Homo sapiens: one gene and its partners. The protein of the gene in region 3 purifies or fractionates together with the protein of the main gene of each other region. This does not show direct contact. Each region holds a gene or a part of one and is shown on either strand. Other genes may lie near its edges.

Region 1 (4,612 bases), on a different chromosome or scaffold from region 3:
TCTCCCTCGGCACCTGTTGCCTAGGAGTGGTCCGCAGACCTGAATCGAACCCTCAGCCGGAGAGAGAAGAAGAAGGCCACTGACGGCGTCACCCTGACGGGCATCAACCAGACAGGCGACCAGTCTCTGCCGAGTAAGCCCAGCAGGTGAGTGGGCGCCACCTCCATCCAAAAGAGGCCGTTCCATGGTGGGGGCCCTGGGCAATCTGCATGGTCCAGGGCAGCCCCGGCCTGGACACCTGGGAGGTTCCTGGGCTCCTGAGCTCTGTGGGCCGTGGCCCAGCCTGGACACCTGGGAGGTTCCTGGGCTCCTGAGCTCTGTGGGCCGTGGCCCAGGGGCATCTCCAGGGAAGGTCGTCTTCCTGCCTGGTGCCAGAGCTGCTGACAGATCCAGAGAGGGAGGCTTGGCCCTGAGCTTCAGACCTGAGTGGGGAGGAGCTGATGACAGGGCTGGCATTCATGTCCCCAGGGATAGCACCGCCCTGCCCGGACACTGGTGGAGGTGCCACCCTGGTTCCCTCAGGCAGCTGAGGTCCTGCCGAGGTTCATGCTCACTCTGTATTGTGTGCAGGCGCCAGTCGAGGGAGGGACAGGAGAGGACTGCCAGGCATCTCCTTTCCAAATTACCTCTTCACTAGGAGCATTGGTTATTTCTGACTTAGTCATTGGCTGAAAATGAGAGATATAAGGGTGGCACTGTGGTCATTAGAACCTTCTGGAAAGTGTGTGCTAGAGGAGGTCTTCCTATAGGACCTGCCCACAGGCCTCCATGTGACACTCAGTAATAGTCATTTCATACGGGGGCTTCCTAAGAAGGCTTAGCCCAGGTTCCCTTGGCCTTCCTGCAGCCCCAGGCACTGAAGCCCCCACCCAGGCTCCCCAGCAGGTGTGGCTGTCGTCATTCCGCTGCTTTGCACGCTGTCTGGGCAGGTGGGCTCGGCAGTAAGTGCCTGTCCCAGGGATCAGGCCAGCACCTGTATGCTTGGGGGTGGGAATGGGAAAGAAGAAACACTGCCTCAGAGGAGACCCTGGGGGCCCTGGGCTGGCCAGGGTTGCTGCACAATCCAGCCGCCCCCACCAGTGCCGTCTCACAACAGTCTGCTAGAGAAAGGTGCCAAGGAGGGAGGAGGGCCGGTGAGCTCAGACATGTGGCCTGGATATTGGCCTCCAGCAGGCCTAGGTCAAGTACCACTTGCCAGGCTGAAGTGGATGAGGCAGTTACTGGCCACTCAGGATCACCCTGGTGGCATTGGAGGCATGTCCTCGCCTCCCTTCCTTGGTTCTGGGGTGGTGGGTGCTCAGGCTGAGCAGTCCATCCAGTGCTTTGGGGGCCTGTGCCCTGAGGCCCTGGTCTTGGAAGTAGAAGGTGCTGCTGGCCAGGGTAGCCCGGTCCTAGGATCAGTTACTTGGTGGGGTGCCAGGGCCCTTGGTGCCTGTCTGATTGGATTGCTTGATGGTCTGCCTGTGGTCTTCGTAGTGTGTAACTCAGCTCCCGGCTCCCAGCCCTCAGGCAGAGCTTGGCCCAGATCTCTCTGGTTCCCACACTGGGCCTGGCAAACAGTAGGCAGTTGCACGACTGGATTTTCCCTCTGGAGCACCAAAGGAATCTTCTTTCTATCTAGAAAAGACGGTGCCGCAGGCCCTGGCCCTGATTTTGGAGGCTTCAGCTCCACAGAGCAGAAGAGCGAGCCCTGAACCCCTTAGTAGTCAGGAGGAGGCCGTGTGGGCTGAAGAGCTCAGAGCCCTCTCCCACTCATCCATGGGAGCCGGCCCCTCCCACACTGTCACTCTCAGAGGAGACCCTGAGGGGCTTTTTGACCCCCCCAGCTCACATTGGTGGGAGTCAGGACAGAGGAGAAGCCCTGAACCTGGAAACGACTTTTGCTCCAGCTGTGGCTTGTCACCCGCCCCTGGGCCACCCCAGGGCCCCTGTTCTGGACGGACTGTCTCCAGGTGCAAGGAAGGAAAAGGGAAACCAAGTCCTCTCCTAGGCTCCTGGACCGTGTTTCACAGCTGAAGTATTGCCCGCATTCTGCCATAGTAACCTTTCTGTTGAAACACCACGGTCCCCTCCGGTCACAGGAGGAGCTGATTTGTCTCTTGAGATCCTGCAGCTAGGAGTTGCCAGGACCCTCACGGGCCCCTGCAGAGCTGGGATCCCCTGAAAGCTCTCTCTCTCCATAGCACCCTTAATGTCCCGAGCAACCCCGCCCAGTCTGCGCAGTCACAGTCCAGCTACAACCCCTTCGAGGATGAGGACGACACGGGCAGCACCGTCAGTGAGAAGGACGACACTAAGGCCAAAAAGTTGGTGAACAAATGCTTCCTCTGCTCCCACCGCGCTCACTCTGTCTCTCTTCCTCTCTCTCTGTCCAGGGGTCTCACCCCTCGGCACTCGGCAATGCACGGAGCTCTGCAGGAAGTGGGCACCTGGCGTGCCGCACCCTGGCCCACTACCTGCTCTCTGGCACAGGCTCTCTGGCACCCCCATTCCTCGGGGAGGGCACAGCTAACAATCTTAAGTTGCTTTTTCTCTGTCCTCTGTTAACCCTTCAAGGCCCTAGCAGCACCATGACAGGAAAACAGACAACGCGCAGTCTGTGCTGGGGACTAGAGAGTGAGGCCCCAGGTTGGCCTCTGCTGTGGGCATCTCCAGCCGCCTGCCCCTGGAAAGCCTGTTGATGGCTCAGGATGAGTGTGGATGGCATGAACTCACACTAGCACTGGCTCCACCTGTGCTCCTTCGGAAGGAGCCCTCAGCCCTGAGCCCCAAGGCTCCAGTGCCCTCCCCTTGCGGGGCGGGGGCCTCACACCCTCTGCCGCCCTGTGCTGAGGGCCCTGTGGCCTCCCCTTTCTTGCAGTGTGAGCAGCTACGAGAAGACCCAGAGCTATCCCACCGACTGGTCAGACGATGAGTCTAACAACCCCTTCTCCTCCACGGATGCCAATGGGGACTCGAATCCATTCGACGACGACGCCACCTCGGGGACGGAAGTGCGAGTCCGGGCCCTGTATGACTATGAGGGGCAGGAGCATGATGAGCTGAGCTTCAAGGCTGGTAGGTGGGCTCCCCCAGCATCCAGGGGAGGAGGGCTTCCAACCTGCAGGCTGTGGGCGGTCTTTTTTGTTTTTTAAGTCTGGAAAAGTTCTTGCTAGTTTCACTTGTGAGTCACTGCAGGCCCTTCCCCAGTGCCCTGGCTTCATTGTCAAAAGCAGCCAATTGGCTGGATGTGGTGGCTCATGCCTATAGTCCCAGAGCTTTGGGAGGCCGAGGTGGAAGGATCGCTTGAGCCCAGGAGTATGAGACCAACCTGGGCAAAATGGCAAAACCTGTCTCTACAAAAAATACAAAAAATTAGGCCAGGCATGGTGGCTCACGCCTGTAATCCCAGCACCTTTGGGAGGCCAAGGCAGGCAGATCACTTGAGGTCAGGAGTTCGAGCCCAGCCTAACCAACATGGTGAAACCCTGTCTCTACTAAAAATACAAAAATGAGCCAGGCGTGTGGCGGGGCATCTATAATCACAGTTACTCAGGAGGCTGCGGCAGGAGAATCACTTGAACCTGGGAGGTGGAGGTTGCAGTGAGCCAAGGTCACACCACTGTACCCCAGGCTGGGTGACAGAGCAAGACTTTGTGTCAAAAAAAAAAAATTAGCTGGGCTAATTTTAGTGGCACATGCCTGTAGTCCCAGCTCTCTGGGAGGCTGAGGTGGGAGGATCACCTGAGCCCAGTAGATTGAGGTTGCAATGAATCATGATTGTACCACTATACTCCAACCTGGACAACAGAGCGAGACCCTGTCGCAAACAAACAAACAAATAAATAACCTGGGCAACAGAGCGAGATCCTGTCTCAAATAAATAAACAAACAAAAGTAGCAGATTAGCTGGGCGTGGTGTTGCATACCTATAGTCCCAGCTGCTTGGGAGGCTGAGGCAGAGGATCACTTAAACCCAAGAGGATACAGTGAGCCATGTTCATACCACGTACTCTAGCCTAGAAGAGAGAGCAAGACCCCATCTCTTAAAAAAAAAAAAAAGTAGGCTGGGCATGGTGGCTCACGCCTGTAATCCCAGCACTTTGGGAGGCCGAGGCACACAGATCACGAGGTCAGGAGATTGAGACCATCCTGGCTAAGAGTGTGAAACCCCGTCTCTACTAAAAATACAAAAAATTAGCCGGGCGTGGTGGCAGCCGCCTGTAGTCCCAGCTACTCGGGAGGCTGACGCAGGAAAATTGCTTGAACCCGGGAGGCGGAGCTTGCAGTGAGCCGAGATTGCGCCACTGCACTCCAGCCTGGGCGACAGAGCAAAACTCTTTTTCAAAAAAAAAAAAAAAAGCGGATGCCCAATGCCAAGACTCAGAAATAGTGAGGTGCTGCCAAGCCAGTGCCTGGACTCCTCACCTTGCTGGGCCAAGGCTGTGAATTGCAGGGCACTGGCTAGTCACACAGAAGGGCATCTGGAGAAGCTGTTGGCCAGGACCACCAGGTTCCCCCATATGTAGTCTGGGAGCTGCTAGCCCCGCAGGGCCATGAGAGAAGCCTTTCTCTAGGGGTCCCCAACTGCCAGAGAAGCCCTCAGGAGAGCCACAGCTTTGCCCAGACCCCA
Region 2 (4,612 bases), on a different chromosome or scaffold from region 3:
CATTAACATCTTACATTAGTATGCATAAGTGTCCTTTTATTTATCTTTCCCAATAGATTATTAGCTTTCGAAAGACAGAAATTTGGGACAATTCATCCTTTTTAAATTTTTATTTAATTTTATTTATTTATTTGTTTTTTTGGAGACAGAGTCTCACTCTGTCGCCCAGGTTGGAGTGGATTAGTGTGATCTTGACTCACTGCAACCTCCACCTCCCTGGTTCAAGTGATTCTCCTGCCTTAGCCACCCGAGTAGCTGGGATTACAGGTGCCTGCCAACATGACCAGCTAATTTTTATATTTTTAGTAGAGACGGGGTTTCACCACGTTGGCCAGGCTGGTCTCGAACTCCTGACCTCAGATGATCTGCCTGCCTCGGCCTCCCAAAGTGCTGGGATTATAGGCGTGAACCACCACACCCGGCCTATTTTTAATTTTAATTTTTTTGAGACAGAGTCTTGTTCGGTTGCCCAGGCTGGAGTGCAGTGGCGTGATCTCGGCTCACTACAACCTCCACCTCCCTGGTTCAAGCAATTCTCCTGCCTCGGCCTCCTGAGTAGCTGGGATTATAGGCGTGTGCCACCACACCTGGTTAATTTTTTGTATTTTTAGTAGAGACGGGGTTTCACCATGTTGGTCAAGCTGGTCTTGAACTCCTAACCTCAGGTGATCTGCCTACCTCAGCCTCCCTAAGTGCTAGGATTACAAGCTTGAGCCACTACGCCCAGCCTCATCTTTTATCCTTAGTATCTAGCACAGTACTTGGAACCTAGTAAGTAAATATTTAATTAATGCTTGTGGAATAAACAAATTATTTTGTACATTTAGCTTTTCTAATCCTCTCAAGAAGACCAGCCGGGCGCGGTGAGCTGAGATCACACCACTGCATTCCAGCCTGGGCAACAGAGTGAGACTCTGTCTCCAAAAAAAAAAAAAAAAAAAAAATCCATTCCTTTAGGGAAGGAACTATGTCTCATACTTTTGGGTTTTTTTTTCCCCCTGAAGCTCCTGAGCTTCAATCTCATACTTTTGTCTTTGCCCACTATGGACTACACCCAGAGGGCTCAAGACACACTGCTGGCTGACCGGCAGGACAGCAGCAGTATAGGGTAGAGGTTCAGATTAGGTAGGAGGACAGTAGGGCCAGAGCTTGCATGGGTTGGGGAAAGCACATCCCAGGGGCCCTCTCTGCTACTCACAAGAAGGCCTCCTTCCTGCGGGACTCCTTCAGTGGCTCGTCCTCTTCGGCATCATGGCTGGAAGGTGTATGGGGTTCCGCTCTGGGGAAGAGAGAGAGAAAGTTAGGGCCAGGCTCAGGGAGGTGAATGGGGCTGAGAAGGACCAGACTGGTAGCCTCACCTCCTGTAAGTGTCAGAAGCGGCAGCGTAGTGGAGGGGAGAGCAGCCTTTACAGTCGGCCTCGTTGACACCTGCCCCAGCAGTCACCAATGTTACTGCACACTGGTAGCTACCGTTAGCAGCTGCATAGTGCAGTGGGGTCCTGGGGAAGAAGTGAAGGAGGGTGGGGAAGAGAATCAGAGACAGATACGAATGCAATCAGATGTGCAGCCAAATGCTGCTTTGTAACATTCTCCTTATTTAAGTCTCCAATCTAAACCCTTCCTCCCTCTACCATTTGTTTCTCTAATCAGATATTCCCTATGTTTACCCCTGCATATTAGCATACCTGCCAAATTTGTCCCTCCTCCTCAAGTCAGCTCCACTGCTCAACAGCAAATTAAGACATTCAACATTCCTAAAAGAAAGATGTGTTAAGAGAGTTACAGCCTCAAAGGGAAGCCACAGGCCCAGGGTGGGGCTAAGGAAGGATGGGACTAGCAAGCCCTTTCTGCTGTGACTGCTTTCATTGTGAGAGGGGGAATAGATCTGGGCAGGCAAGAATGAGGGGCCCAGACCTTTGCCCAGCTCCCTGCTCAAAGCATGGGAGAGAGAAAGAGAACTCACCCTCCGGAAGCAGCAGCATGAAGACAGGTACGGCCAAGGTTGTCAGGTGTATTGATGTCAAACCCAGCTGAAAGCACATGCTCATTGCTGAGTGAAGACACAATGCTGTACAACTGACCTGGAGGCACAGAACAGCCACAGGTCACATCTGAGAGTGTTCAGCAGGGAGGGAAAGGCCTTTGCTCTCCTATACACCTGCCAATCCCCAGCCCATCAGCACATACCTGAGGAAAGAAGCTTACGACAACAGTCAGAGAATCCAAAGAGAACAGCTAAGTGCAGGGGGAACATGTCATGGATGCCACGCCTAGAGAGAAGTTGAGGGACTCAGTCCTTGGGTCAAGGAGGGACCAAGTAAGACCTCTTCTGTGACCTACCACCACCCTAGAGTCAGGGTAGGAGGTTCTCCAAGGTGCCCTTTGGCAAGCTTATCTGTGCCTCCATGGTTGATGTGAGCAGTCTGTGCAGATCTGGGCAGCCCAGAAGTGGAGTCGGGGCCCTGACTCACCGGGCGGTATCTGCGCCATTGGTCATGAGGGTGCTGATGAGCAGCTCGTGTCCATATCGAGCAGCCACATGCAGTGGCGTGTTCCCAAATTTGTCGGCACAATCAATCTCGCTGCCTGTGAGGGGATGCACACACACAAGCTCAGGCAGACCTCAGGCTTAAGACCACTTTCGCGAGCTAGCCATGATTTGAGTGCCTACTATGTATGCATCAGGTGCCAGGCCCAGGATTCTACATATTTTATCCTGTTTCTAGGCCTTAGGAGACTGGGCAGGGCAGAGCAGGGCCATTTCCACAGGTCCCTTGGTCAGAGTTCCAAGGGCCTATCCTACTGGAAGAGGGCAGGAGAAGGAAGTTAGGAACCTCCCTAGATTCTAGAAATGAGTTCCTTGGGGGAGGAGGGGATGAGAGCACAAAGTCTCCCAGGTCCATACCATTCTGGATGAGGATCTGGGAGCGTGTGAAACGGCCATGGATTGCAGCCATGTGCAGAGGACTTTTCCCTTCTTTGCTCTGTGGAAACATGGTGGGTTTTTGTTTTTGTTTTTTTTTCCAGTGCAAAGCACAGAGAATGCCCTACCTCCCTTCCAAGGACATATCTCTAAGGACAAAAGGGTCATATGGCACCTTCTTAGCCCACTCTTTCCTGAGTCCCTGGCAAGGTCTGATTACCCTAGGAAGCAAGTGGATAATTCCCCAAGAGAGCTATCCAGATACAGTCAGGACCCCTAGATCCAAGTTTCGCTCCCCACTGGTCTAAGCCTTATCCCTTCAGGCACCTGGTAGTTGACGTCAGCCCCATTATTAACCAGTAGCTCCAAGCAGAGAGCGCCATTGGTGGAGACTGCAGCCACATGCAGTGGCGTGAAGCCCTTGTCATTCGGCTGGTTGACATTGGCTCCGGCATTCACCAGCTCAATAGCCACAGCATCCTGGCCCAGGTAGCAGGCGATGTGCAAAGCTGTGTTTCCAAAAGCATTGGGTTCATCGATCTGGATATTCAGGGGTGAGAGTAAGGTGGTATCAGTTTAAACAAAGTAGAAGCCAGCACATGTAGCCTCCAGATCCCAGAAATCCAACGACTGCCTCATTTCCTCTCGGGTTTATGACCCAAGGTACTAAGGTACTAAGGGCACTATGGCTAAGGTAAGCATTATTCAGACCCTCTCTACCACGTCCTTCCAACTTCCCAAAACTATACCAACATCCCAATACCTCATATCTCCGTAACAGACTATAATCTCCTACTTGCTGCCCATAGTTCCCAACCCCAGAGCTCAAAGCCCTGACCTCCGCTCCCATCCGAAGCAGGTACTTCACCACTTCAATCTGGCCACTGGCAGCAGCTGTATGGAGCAGCCCATAGCCCTTGCGGTCCTTGCAGCCGAGGTCTGCTCCCCGTGCCACCAGCAGTTTTAGGACCTCCAAGTGCCCTGAGAAAAGAGAAGACACTCTAAAGGAAGTAGAAGGTAAACTCTAAGACCCTACACTCCTCTCTTCAAAGGCTGCAACCCCACATCCCTGCCCTAGGAATCCTAAATGTCAAATTTCTGATTTTCCCGTGTATTCTCTCTCACCTAGAAAAGCTGCCCAATGCAGAGGCTGCCGCTCCTTTTTGTCACAGACATTCAGGCTGGCTCCCTTGTTGAGGAGCAGGTTCACCGTCTGCATCAGGATATGAAAGACACCTGTTCAGAGCTAGATTCGTGCCCTCAACCTACCTAAGAGCAGAGGCCTCATCTCCTGAAAAGGCTGAGGCAGCCTAATGCCTTTTTCCATGAGCAAAACAACCTGGAGGACTCGAGGGAACAGCAGAAGCAGGCACTAAGGAGGAGATACTGGAGAGATTTGGAACTTTAAGGGAAACAAGAGAGTCTCTTCAGGTGATCTGGTGGTTCTTAAACTCTTTTTTTTTTTTTTTTTGAGACAGTCTCGCTCTGTTACCCAGGCTGGAGTTCAGTGGCATGATTTCGGCTCATTGCAAGCTCCGCCTCCCGGGTTCACGCCATTCTCCTGCCTCAGTCTCCCGAGTAGCTGGGACTACAGGCGGCCGCCACCACACCCGGCTAATTTTTTGTATTTTTAGTAGAGACAGGGTTTCACCATGTTAGCCAGGATGATCTCGATCTCCTGATCTCATG
Region 3 (5,540 bases):
AAAAATAAAAAATCAGCTGGGTATGGTGGTGCACGCCTGTAGCCCTAGCTACTCAGAAGGCTGAGGCAGGAGGATCACCTGAGCCCAGGAGTTCAAGGTTACATTGAGCTATGATTATGCTACTGCACTCCAGCCTAGGTGACAGAGCAAGACCCTGCCTCAAAAAAAAAAAAAAGATTGCTACAAGTACAATTAAAAGTAAGATGTCCGTTATTCACAGCTTTGTGGAAATATAAAAACAAATAACAAAGTCCAGAGTCTGTATAGCAAAAAGCATAACAGAAAAAAACATTAAACACTAAAGAGAATAAAATGAGAAAAGGCAGATAAAATAAATGTGAACTGTTTACATTCCTTTATTAAAACAGAGAATCAAATTGGATTTAGAAAGATTAAAAATAAAGATGGACAAAATATATCAGCCAAATGAGAAGGGGGAACAGAATTTAGGACTAAAAAAGTAGATAAAAAGAGTTATTTCAATATTTTATCAAAATATGAACTGCAAAAACATACAAAATATGAGTAGAGGTAAATAGACAACAGACAATTGTATTGAATTAAATGAATCTTAATTGCATTAAGAGCATGAAGTCATTATTATTTGAAGCACTGTTAGAGAATCTAAGAACTTATGAGGAATATAGTATTGAGCGTAATTGAGGTTAAAAGTAAATCTATGATAACAATTGTTTGACCAATTAACAAAATTTGATTATGGACTACAATTGAAAGTATTCTATCAGTGTTAGATTTCCTGAGTTTGACTACTGTACTGTGGTTATATAAGAGAAAATCTTTGTTCTTAGGAAATACATACTGAAATATTTAGGGGTAAAGGAACATAATATATACAACTTATTCTCAAATGGTTCAGGAACAATACTATATGTGACTGTTGTGTGTGGGAGAGATATAAAAGGGAAGAGAGAATGATAAATGTGGCAGAATTTTTTAAATTGGTGAATACTTGTGAAATGCTCTTTGAATTGTTCTTGTAACTTTTCTGTAATTTTGAAGTCATTTTAAAATAAAAAAATTAATACAACAACAAAAAAAGTAAATCTATGATAACAAACCAAAAATGAAATTTTAAAACAATTATATTTATAATAGCATCAAAAAGAAAATCATACTTAGGAACAAATTTAACAAAAGAAATACAAAAGTTACACTCTGAAAACTACAAAATATTACTTAAGGAAATTAAGTAAGACCTACATACACAGAAAGACATCATATGTTCATGGATTAGAAGATTTAATATTTTTAAGATGGCAATATTCTCTAAATAGATTTACAGTTGATGCAATCTTATCAAAATCTCAGCTGGCTTCCTTGCAGAAGTTGACAACCTGATCTTAAAATTCATATGGAAGTTAATGGGACCCATAATACCCCAAACAATATTTAAAAAATAAAATGAAATTGGAGGACTCACACTGCCTGATTTCAAAACTTACTACCAAGCTGTAGTATCAAGAAATGTGGAATTGACATAGGGCTAGATATATAAAGAAATGGAATATAACTGAGAGTCTAGAAAAAAACGCTCACACTTATGGGAAATTGATTTTCAACAGGGTGCCAAAACAATTCACTGGAGAAAATAATAATCTTTTCAACAAATGGTGCTGGAACAACTAGATATTCACACACAAAAACATGAAGTTTGGCCCCTACCTCATAACATATACAAAAACTAACTCAAAGTGGATTAAAAACCTAAATGCAAGGGCTAAAACTATGTAGCTCTTTGAAGAAAATATAGATGTATATCTTCATGACTTTGGATTAGGCAATAGTTTCTTAGATAGGACAACAAAACCATAAGAACCAAAGAAACTATAGATTGAATATCATCAAAATTTAAAACTTTTAAATTTTGTGCTGCAAACAACACTATCAAGAAAGTGAAAAGACAACCCACAGAATGGGAGAAAATTTTTGGAAATCATATATCTGAAAAGGGAATATATAAGGAATCATTGCAACTCAATCATAAAAAGGTAAACCCATTTAAAAAATGGGCAAAGAGGCCAGGCGTGGTGGCTCACGCCTGTAATCCCAGCACTTTGGGAGGCCGAGGCAGGTGGATCACCTGAGGTCAGGAGTTCGAGACCAGCCTGGCCAACATGGTGAAAGCCCGTCTCTACTAAAAATACAAAATTAGCCGGGTGTGGTGGCACATGCCTGTAATCCCAGCTACTCCGGAGGCTGAGGCAGGAGAACTGCTTGAACTCAGGAGGTGGAGGTTGCAGTGAGCCAAAATCACGCCATCACACTCCAGCCTGGGCAACAAGAGCAAAACTCCACCTCAAAAAAAAAAAAAAAAAAAAATGGGCAAAGGATCTGAACAGGCATTTTTCCAAAAAAGATCCACAAATGCCCACTAAACACATGAATAGATTTTCAAAACCATCAGCCATCAGGGAAATACAAATCAAAACCTCAATGAGATACTACTTCACACTCATTAGGAAGGCTATAATAAAAGATAGGGAATAAAAAGTGTTGGCAAGGATGTGGAGAAATTGGAATCACCATATATTGCTGGTGGAAATGTAAATGGTCCAGCTACTTTGGAAAACAGTCTGGCAGTTCATCAAATGGTTAAACATAGACATACAAGTGACCCAGCAATTTTGCTCCTAGGTATATAACCAAAAGAAATTAAAAACAAGTCCACACCAACACTTGTCCATGAATGCTCACAGCAGCATTATTCATAATGTCAAAAAGTAAAAACAATCCAAATATTCATCAACTGATGAATAAAATGTGGTATATACATTCAATGGGATATATGCTATGAAATGAATGTCCAGAATTGGCAAAACTGTGGGGACAGAAAGTAGATTGGTGTTTTCCTAGGACTCAGAACGGTGGGGGCCATGTAGGGAGGAAATGGGGAGTGCCCATTAATAGGTATGAGGTTTCTTTTCAGGGTGATAAAATGTTCCAAAATTGATTGTGGTGGTGGTACACAATCCTGTGAATATACTAAAACCACTGAATTGTCGACTTTAAGTTGGTGAATCGTATGATATGTGAATTGTGTCTCCAGATAATAAGATCAACAACTATGGATTTGAATCTCAACTTCAACACTTACCAACTGAGAGACTTTAACAATTGAGTTATTTAACAGTAAATAATACCAACCTCCTTGGATGGTTGGAGAACTGAATTAACATCTGTAAGGTGATTAGAATAGTGTGCGAACCAATGTCCACTATAAGCCTGTGTGTTAACTAACTAAAGCCACCAGCACTTCCTTTCATTAAACACTTACCGTATTCGTTTTCTTTGCCTGCTATAACAAATTACCATAAAAAAACTCAGTGGTTTAAAACAAGACACATTTATTCTCTTACAGTTCTGGAAGTCTGAAGGCTGAAATCAGTTTCACTGGACTGAAATCAAGGTGTTGGTAGGACTAAGCTCCTCTCTACCCATCAGAGAATATTATGGTTGGAGATAAATTACCATATAATTGAAAAGACTGGATTGATTAATAAATATCCAATTTTATATCCTAAAAACATACAGCTTCTTCACAAGTGTTCATAGATTTACACAAACCCATCATATGCTTAGTTACAAGGAAACCTCAGAAATTATAAAGCCATATTCTCTAACCATCATGGAAAAAATGAAAAATTAATTATAATGGCAAACAAAAATAAAAATCATTTACAATCTTTTAGAAGTAATATTCTGGGCTACAGAGAATAAAAATGTGATGTCAAACTATTTAGAAAACGATGACACCACATATAAAAATGTGTTGGATCTATTCACAGTAAGAACAGATTCAGAAAAACTATCAGAGGCCGGGTGTGGTGGCTCACACCTGTAATCCCAGCATTTTGGGAGGCCTAGGCAGGCAGATCACTTGAGTCCAGGAGTTTGAGACCAGCCTGGGCAACATGGTGAAACCCCGTCATAACAAAAATAAATAAATAAATAAATAAATACAGAAAAACTATTATAAGTATGGCAGGAAAACTTGAATACTTTTATATGATAAAGCATGCACATAAGTTGATTAAAAACATCAAATCCAAATAAGTATTATAATAAACAGGAAAAGGATGTAAAAAGTATACAAAAGAAGTATATCGTGAAAAATGTCAAATTTACTGTAATTAAGAAATACAAACTAAAACAATCTAAAAATTGATAAAATTATTTAAAAACAAAAACACCAAAGCTGTCAGGGATGCCACAAAACAGGAACTGCTTTTGAGAGCATGAAGGGCCCAACCTTTGGGAATGCAACCTGGCAACAGTAATCAAGAACTTTAAAAAACATTAACAAGTTTCAATCTAGTAAGTCTATTTCTGGGATCCTGTCCTCAGAGTGCAATCCTACATATGGAAAAAACTTCCTGCACAAAGACATTTATTGGAAATGGAAACATCCTCAATATTCAATAACAGGAGAACTGTTAAATAAACTATGTGACTATAAAAATTACGCTAACAAAGACCACGCTATAAAATGGAAAATACATGTGCTTCACTGCTACAGTAAAACCAGGCTTTAAAACTGCATATATAGCCTAATGATCATGGTGCCATCTCATAACTTTTCAAGGTCCTATTCAAGTGAATGCCAAATGAGAGAAACAACCCAGGCATAGTAAAAAAAAAAAAAAAAAACTGCCAGGAAATGGCACCAAAATATTACAAGTGATTGTTTTTCTTCCCTACTGTAATCTATAGTATCATGTTTTCTTTAATGGGCATGTGCTATGTTACTTGTATCCTCACGGACATAAAGCAATGCTTTACATCCTTCCTATGAATCAAAAGGAAACACTTCTTTTTTTTTTTTTTTTTTGCTTCTTTTTAAATTTTTTTAAACCAAGCAGTGGTTATGGAAGGAAACACCTCTTTGTGTAACAGGGCATGTACTGCCACTGTCGGTCTCTAAAGTCACTTTGATGATCTAACAAAAACAGCATGTTTCATACATGTTAGACAACCTCTACTCTGGATTTTTTTCTCCAACAACTTATTTTCTCTTCACAACCCCCTCAAGTTTTCAAGCCTAAAGAAATTCCATCGGTTCTCTCTGCACCCACTTTCCTTGCTTTGCTCCTAGAATTATTCCCACCTTTCTTCTGCAGAGCGTAGACAATGCCTCAGGCACACTGTTGCCAGTCTCAGAGCCCTGAGTCCCTGCTACCTCTAGCTCCCTGGGACTCCAACACCCAGCACAAGATTCTGCAGGCAGCCACACATTCTGCTCCAGTACTTCTCAAGTTGAAGGCAGAGAATAAGGGAAGTTTAGGGAAGCTTGGAGCCATGGAGAAAAGGTGGAGACATGCAGGAAATCTAACACAAGGCCTTTTTGTGTAACAGTAGTTTTTGTGTGCTGAAGATTCCAGTTTCTAGGATTTGGCAAATTGGGAGCCTCAATTTCCTGTTCTAGGGCATATATTTGCTGAATGAATAAATGAATTAGGCTTCCCATCATCCTGCAATGACACCTGACCAGTGACTAGAAGTGGCAGCTTGGTGAGGGAGTA

The links.
Region 1: the proteins of ENTPD1 (region 3) and PACSIN2 purify together in Homo sapiens (affinity purification with mass spectrometry; one large-scale study listed by BioGRID and IntAct). This does not show direct contact.
Region 2: the proteins of ENTPD1 (region 3) and ANKRD52 purify together in Homo sapiens (affinity purification with mass spectrometry; one large-scale study listed by BioGRID and IntAct). This does not show direct contact.

Annotation. Positions count from the first base shown.
Region 1 is NC_000022.11:42,874,582-42,879,193, reverse strand, and holds part of PACSIN2 (protein kinase C and casein kinase substrate in neurons protein 2), read left to right. Parts: intron 1-24; coding exon 25-146; intron 147-2,183; coding exon 2,184-2,306; intron 2,307-2,860; coding exon 2,861-3,057; intron 3,058-3,663; exon of another isoform or gene 3,664-4,612.
Region 2 is NC_000012.12:56,250,817-56,255,428, forward strand, and holds part of ANKRD52 (serine/threonine-protein phosphatase 6 regulatory ankyrin repeat subunit C), read right to left. Parts: intron 4,137-4,612; coding exon 4,049-4,136; intron 3,905-4,048; coding exon 3,762-3,904; intron 3,464-3,761; coding exon 3,251-3,463; intron 2,985-3,250; coding exon 2,906-2,984; intron 2,587-2,905; coding exon 2,472-2,586; intron 2,271-2,471; coding exon 2,188-2,270; intron 2,082-2,187; coding exon 1,964-2,081; intron 1,755-1,963; coding exon 1,686-1,754; intron 1,500-1,685; coding exon 1,359-1,499; intron 1,280-1,358; coding exon 1,199-1,279; intron 1-1,198. UniProt on the Homo sapiens protein: Putative regulatory subunit of protein phosphatase 6 (PP6) that may be involved in the recognition of phosphoprotein substrates.
Region 3 is NC_000010.11:95,761,519-95,767,058, reverse strand, and holds part of ENTPD1 (ectonucleoside triphosphate diphosphohydrolase 1), read right to left. Parts: intron 1-5,540.